Homo sapiens: one gene and its partner. The protein of the gene in region 2 interacts with the protein of the main gene of each other region in a biochemical or structural test. Each region holds a gene or a part of one and is shown on either strand. Other genes may lie near its edges.

Region 1 (3,827 bases), on a different chromosome or scaffold from region 2:
AGTGTGGTTCCTCTAGTTTATGCTCCATGCTTAGCCACCTCTATGGACATAAAATATAGCAAGGTGTTTTATAGGCAGGACTATTTGGGCTTGAGTCGAGGGGAATCTTTCCACGTACCCAAGACCTATTTCCTTCTGGATGACTACTGTGCTTGACTTCTATTAAATGTCAGAGCAGCCTTTTTGTAATATGAATCTTAAAAAATATAATTTATGATGATAGCAAAACTGCAATATTCAGCTTCTAGTAGCTTGCCTCACAGCTACCTTTACATGAAGTTTCTGTGGACTTGGGAGAAGCAAGTGACATCCCCTTTTATTCCACTACTCAGGAGAGTCTGAATGTCAAGGAAGCAATTTGCCTTTATTTCATTTAGCTAGTTTCTCTGGAGTCTGATATAACACCATGTACTAGGTGTACTCAGAGGGTAAATGGGGTACATCTTCTAGGAAGGTCAGACATACCTATACATGTTGATATATAGTTGTTTGAGATAGGAAAACCAAAGTGTTTTTCCTAATCTCTGCTCTCACTGAACACAACACTTCTGACACCAATGTGCACAGATTACTACGCCACTTCTAGAATTTCTCATTCAGTAGGTCGTGGTTGGGTGGGATCTGGGGTTTGCATTTCTAACAGATTCCCAGATGATGGGGATGCTACTGGTCAGAGACCACACTTTGAAAACCACAGCTCCAGCCTGTAACCATACCTGCAGCTCCCTGGACATGCCATGCTGTCTTCCCATGCCTTGTCTTTGCCTGGAAGACACTCTCCAGCCTTATCTTCTTTGCTACTTAGTTGGTCCTGCAGATTCAGCTTGCATACCATATCCTCTGGGAAGCCTTCCTTTATGCCCTCTTCTATCCACCAGACAGAGTTAGGTACTCCTTGTCTTTGTTTCTGTCGCGATTTCCTGTTTACATGTCTGTCTCCCATATTAGATGATGAGCTTTTAGAGAGCAGAGCCTGTATTTTATCTTTATTCACCATTGTCCACTGAATGACTGACACACAGTAGGTGCTCAATAAAGATGTGTTGAGCGAATGCGCTCTACTCACCACAGCCTTGTTTTCCTTAACAAAAGGATGTGAAGCCCAGAAGTGGGGACCTGAATGCAACCATCTCTGTACTGCTTGTATGAACAATGGTGTCTGCCATGAAGATACTGGAGAATGCATTTGCCCTCCTGGGTTTATGGGAAGGACGTGTGAGAAGGGTAAGTAAAGAGACTTGATAAGTAAGCTGTGGATTTAAAAAGCCATCGTTGCTGGATCTAGAATTTTAGATCTCGACACAGATGGGAATGGACGCTAAATGGCCTCTGTTAGGTCAGATGGTACCTGTGTGTGAATTAGAAAAAGGTGCCTTTTCCTAAAGGTTCTTTAATGCCAACCACTGGAAAGTTATAATAAATATACAGATCCGTGATGTTTACAGTGTGAATGCTGCCCCCTAGGTTTGTGCACTGCACAAACCTGCATGATTGTGAGTGATGTCCCTGATGTCTGCTCTGTGGGGCAGTTTCATTATCAGTAAAATGGGCCATAAGGGTATGTTCATCCTACCATGCCACAGCTGAGATTTGACTGTTTCCCATATTCACTAGACTAGGAGAAATGAATCTAAAGAATTATGTATTTCAAGGGGTTGCATATTTGACTCTGAATCATCTTTTCTTTTCCTCCCAAAGCTTGTGAACTGCACACGTTTGGCAGAACTTGTAAAGAAAGGTGCAGTGGACAAGAGGGATGCAAGTCTTATGTGTTCTGTCTCCCTGACCCCTATGGGTGTTCCTGTGCCACAGGCTGGAAGGGTCTGCAGTGCAATGAAGGTATGCACCAATCACACCCTTGGACAGAGGATGTTCTAGCAGGTATATAAAGGAGATCCAGTTTGCTGTCAATCACAACATCGGATATACCTGGACTGCTTAGCTACCCACTACTGGACAACAGGATTTTGAATCATGGATGTTTACATCCAATGTTAATTATACTTTCACAGTAAAAATCTAGACCGCATAGAAAGTACTTCTCATAACTATCATCTGGGGATCTTTACTAAAGCACGGATTCTGATTTGGTAGGCATGGACTGGGGCCCGAGGTTCTGCATTTCTAACAGGCTCCCAAGTAGTTCCGATGTTACTGGTTTTCAGACCATGCTTTGAGTAGGAAGACCATAGAAGACTTGTTTTTTTTTTTTGGTTTTTTTTTTTTTTTTTTTTCAGTGAATCATAAAATCACAGCTTTAGCCAGGCATGGTAGCACATGCCTGTTGTCCCAGTTATTCAGGAGGCTGAGGCAGGAGGATCCCTTGAGCCCAGGAGTTTGAAGCTGCAGTGAGCTATGATTGCACCACTACACTCCAGCCTGGGCAACAGAGTGAGACCTCGTTTAAAAAAAAAAAAATCAAAATCAGAGCTTTTATGTCAGATCCAGACAGGATTTGGGGCTCAAAAATTGAAGAAGTTAAAATCTTACCTGCCGTGGACCTTATGCAAGTAGTACTAACATCATCTACTCAGAGTCCCTCTGCCCTTTGTAAAATAAGCTTTCCCATTTGACCAGGCTCTGTGGAGTGCATCTGACATCCACTTTTCAGTATGCATTTCACATCTACTGTTGCATAGTAGCTCAACATGAACCTGCAGACAAATGTGACAGAACCTCCCTAATGTATATTAATACTGTGAATTAGCCAGAGCTCAAAGGCTTTTCAGTGTTTATCTCACAAAGTCAGCTTTTCCCATATCCGGCACTAAAGGTAGCTACGATGGGGTCCCAGCAACTTGATAACAATGCTCCAGGGCAGAGCAGTTCAGTAGAAATATAAGCCATCCACATATAGAATTTAAAATTTTCTAGTGTCCACATTAAAAAAGTGAGGAGAAATAGGTGAAATAATTTTGATCTATTAACCCAATATGTTAAAAACATTATCAGTTCAACATGTAATCAATAGAAAAAAGTATTAATGAGATATTTTACATTCCCTTTTTCATAGTAAGTCTTTGAAATTTCAGTTTGGACTAGCTATATTTTAAGAGTTCCATAGCCACACGTGGCTAACTGTACTGGACAGCATAGCTCCAGGGGCTTGGAGGAGGAGGACAAAGAGGAGAGTTACACAAAAGTAAGCTTCAGCCACCTGCAATACCTCATTCAGTTCCCTCTAAATGCTATGTCTGCCCCCCGGAACATGCAGTGAGCCACAGCAGTGGAGAAATCCCATCTGGCCTCTGAAGTGTGTATGTTAAGGTAAAAGGTGACTCCAGGCAGGGGGCAGATCCCTTGTATTTTAAAAAAAATTAAAATGTTACGCAAACTATGAACACTTTGCTAGGACCCAGGAAGCGGTGCATGCCAGCAGTCTCTAGAACATAAACTTCATCAGCTTTGTAGTGAATGTGTCTCTGGGCCCAGGTTTTTTTGTTTTTTTTTTAATTCTTTTTATTATTATTATTATTATTATACTGTAAGTTTTAGGGTACATGTGCACAATGTGCAGGTTAGTTACATATGTATACATGTGCCATGCTGGTGTGCTGCACCCATCAACTCGTCATTTAGCATTAGGTATATCTCCTAATGCTATCCCTCCCCCCTCCCCCCACCCCACAACAGTCCCCAGAGTGTGATGTTCCCCTTCCTGTGTTCATGTGTTCTCACTGTTCAATTCCCATCTATGAGTGAGAACATACGGTGTTTGGTTTTTTGTCCTTGTGATAGTTTACTGAGAATGATGATTTCCAATTTCATCCATGTCCCTACAAAGGACATGAACTCATCATTTTTTATGGCTGCATAGTATTCCATGG
Region 2 (3,827 bases):
ACTAGTCTAAGGGACCCAAACTCCTTGAGAAACTAAGAGCTATGAACTTTCTTCCCCCTAAAATGGGCTTACACACAAAAAATATTATATATAATTTAAAAGGGTTCAAAGATTCCCCTGAAGCCCACCCACTGCCCCCAGGAAAAGTCCCGCTGCTTCTCACAGGTCTGTTCAGTTAGTAAACTTCCTGAACAGAGTACTGCCATGTTTTCAACTGTCAATTCAAAAACACAGTACCTAGGGCATAGTGGGCACTCAGGTATCTCCATAAATACCTTCTGTATGAATGGATAAATGATAGAGACCATGGATGGATGACAGAGACCATGGATGGATGACAGAGACAAATCTTTGCATTCCTTCAGAGCCTATCAGGACAGTCACTCAAATGTTGTTAAAATAGCTTTTTAAATGCCGATTAGATATAAAAGTTATTACAGGAAATGTAGATATTAGCACACTTCCCAAAGCCTCTGAGATTATCATGGTCCACGATATGACTAGGCTTTGTGTCCCCACCAAATCTCATCTTGAATTATAATCCCTATGTAATTATAATCCCCCATGCTATTCTCCTGATAGTGAGTTCTCACAAGATCTGATGGTTTTACAAATGTTTGGTAGTTCCTCCCATGTTCATTCTCCTTCCTGCCACCTTGTGAAGAAGGTGCCTTGCTTCCCCTTCACCTTCCACCACAATCGTAAGTTTCCTGAGGCCTCCCCAGCCATGCTGAACTGTGAGTCAATTAAACCTCTTTCCTTTATAAATTACCCAGTCTCGGGCAGTTCTTCATAGCAGTGTGAAAATGGACTAATACAGTCCACACTCCACTTTCTCCAAAAAAAACTTTTAGGGAGCAACTACTGTTTGCTTCTTATATCTGCCATAGGCCAGCTACAGACCCTACAATACTGTACAAATGCAAACAAGATTTTTGTGTGATTTCAGAAGGAAGGAGATAATTGTCAAGGTTTGACTGCATGAATCTAAAGAAACTTAAATACTACAGGAAATATAAAATGCTGGAAGAGGAGTTCAACTCATATTTGGAAAAGACTAGTGGTTTAGAAATTGCATATCACCTGATTTACCTTATCAAGTTTTCAACTCAAATCTAATGAAAGGCTTTTTTTCTTGTGATATTAAAGATCAAACTTTACAAAGGAGAAAAAGTGCTTTAAGATTAACTGTGCTAAAATATTTATTCTAGAAGGTGAGAATTAATCACATTTTTGCTTCTGAGTTTTTGGTGAACATGGTGAAGTCATTTTAAATTTTTAGCTTTCTCATCTTCCAAGTACTGGTTTATAAAATAAAAGGGGAGACCATCCTGGCCAACATGGTGAAACCCCATCTCTACTAAAAATAAAAAAAGTAGCTGTGTGTGGTCACGGGCGCCCGTAATCCCAGCTACTCAGGAGACCGAGGCAGCAGAATTGCTTGAACCCAGGAGGCGGAGGTTGCAGTGAGCTGAGATGGTGCCACTGCACTCCAGCCTGGCAACAAAGCAAGACTTTGTCTCAAAAAAATAAAATAAAATAAAATAAAAGGGAAGCTTTCTGAGGGAAAAAGTATGTTCAACAGTACAACCACAGATAAGCAAGATTTCATTCATTTAGTAGGTATGCTCAAGGACCAGGAATAGCTTCCTTCAAAAAGAAGAGAGGATACATACCAGAGTATAGAAGTTTAACACTGGAAAGGTACTGTGACATTATGTTAAGAAGGTTCTGGAATGCCAGGCTAAGAAGTACAGACTTTATCCTATAGGCCTGTGATTCTCAACTAGGACCAAAGTTACAAAATTGGATGAAAACTTCCAGGTGAAGTATTTTTTTTTAATTATTAAAAAAAACTATATATATATATTTAAAATTGGAGGGAGCTGAGAAGGGAAAAATCAGGGAATCAAATCTCTCTGGAAAGAGAGACAGACATAATTACAGTTTGAAAAAGGAGCAGCACTTGGATCATATGTTTTGAATTGACTTTCAAAATACACATTTAAAATTTCCAATAATTGTAATGGTCATCAAAGGGAGCAATGAGTTTTTTTAACTTATATTTTTAATAATAAAAATTAAACCATGCTTCCAGTGCAGCCCACATCTCCTGATTGTACAACCAGTATGGTTTCCATTAGCCTACAGATGCTGCCACTTGAAAGTGAGTATGATGTGTTGAATGGACTGGATGAGGAAAGAAACTAGAGGCAAGTAGAGAACAACAGATATCACTTGTAATCACTCTCTAAATACCCACAAATTCACTATTTTTGAAGAGATACCGATGACATGATATCTTGATTTTATTAAGTCCAAAGCCAAAAGTTTAAAAGACATTTTATTAATACTCTAAGACAATGTCAACAAAGTATGATCCATTGGGTGTGGGATGCACAAATACAGAAGTTACCTTAAGAAACTGCAGCTAATAAAATCATATTTATTTAAAATATTTGAATTCAATGTAGCTCTTATCTTGTATTTTCTTTTTCAGTGGATACTGAAAATACAACGAGTTATGTGAGCACATCTGTGTAGGAGGGGAAGAAGCAGTTCTCATGATCGTCTAGAAGACAAACCCTTGGACCACTGAAGAATTCACCTGAAGAATAAATCTGTCTTACAGCATTAAGTTTGTCTACAATGTCTGCACATGCAATGGACATTAGTGCCTATTAAATGCCAAGCACTATATTAAGCAATGGGGATACAGGGATAATTAAGTCCCAGTCTCTAGCCTGGGAGGCGTTCAGTCTGGGGAAGACAGAAATGTAAATATTTATGAATCTAATGAACTCAGTGCTACAGAAACACAGAAGTATTTAACATATGAACAAAAAACCTACAGCCACCTAAATGTTAATGTCTTACTTTCAGTTTCATCCTTTAAAAATCCTTTTTCCAAGTTAAATATCAAATATTGATGGAAAAAAGTTAATATATTTTGAAAGTAAATAAAGTAAAACATTCTTGAGAATGCTTAAAGTAAATTTTTAGTTTACTGTCTCAGTGAACCATGTCTGGAGAGTTACTTAAAAGTTCACTTCCACTTCTGAAGTTAGTTGATGTAAATATGTTTAGGTGAATACTCATCAAAGGATGGATAAGAAAACCATAACTAAACCAGTGGCACTGGGTAAGCACTAAGATTAGCTCAAATGCAAGGACTGGAAAATATTTCCTATCACTCTAGCTTTGAAAGACAAATTAAGACACACAAAATCTTACAAGCTAACCACAAGAAGATACCACTTCACACCCAGTAGGATGCCTATAATCAAAAAGACAGCAACAAGTATCGGTGAAGATGTAGAGGAACTGGAACCCTCATATATTCCTGATTGGAATGTAATATGTGCAGCAGCTTTGGATAACAGTCTGGCAGTTCCGCAAAATGTTAAACATAGTGTTACCACGTGACTGAGCAATTCCACACTTAGATATATACCCAAGAGACCTGAAAATGTGTCCACACAGAAACTTGTACACAAATGTTCATAGCTGCATTATTCACATTAGCCAAAAAGTGGAAACAATTCAAATACCCATCAACACGATGAATGGATAAACAAAATGTGGTATCTATACAATAGAATATTATTCAGCCATAAAAAGGCCAAAAGTACTACGGATCAATACTATAACATGGATGAAACTTGAAATCATCATGTTAGGTGGAGTCAGTCACAAAACACCACATATTGTATGATTCCATTTATATAAAATGTCCAGAATACTTAAATCTATGGAAACAGAAGGTAGATTTGTGGTTGCCTGGGGCTTATGGGAAGGCGGGGAGTGACTGCTAATGGGTACAGAAA

The links.
Region 1: of the proteins of PTPN12 (region 2) and TEK, one has a biochemical effect on the other in vitro, tested with the Homo sapiens proteins (one large-scale study listed by IntAct).

What each region holds. Positions count from the first base shown.
Region 1 is NC_000009.12:27,171,524-27,175,350, forward strand, and holds part of TEK (angiopoietin-1 receptor isoform 1 precursor), read left to right. Parts: intron 1-1,092; coding exon 1,093-1,224; intron 1,225-1,698; coding exon 1,699-1,839; intron 1,840-3,827. UniProt on the Homo sapiens protein: Tyrosine-protein kinase that acts as a cell-surface receptor for ANGPT1, ANGPT2 and ANGPT4 and regulates angiogenesis, endothelial cell survival, proliferation, migration, adhesion and cell spreading, reorganization of the actin cytoskeleton, but also maintenance of vascular quiescence.
Region 2 is NC_000007.14:77,543,647-77,547,473, reverse strand, and holds part of PTPN12 (tyrosine-protein phosphatase non-receptor type 12), read right to left. Parts: intron 1-3,827. UniProt on the Homo sapiens protein: Dephosphorylates a range of proteins, and thereby regulates cellular signaling cascades. Dephosphorylates cellular tyrosine kinases, such as ERBB2 and PTK2B/PYK2, and thereby regulates signaling via ERBB2 and PTK2B/PYK2.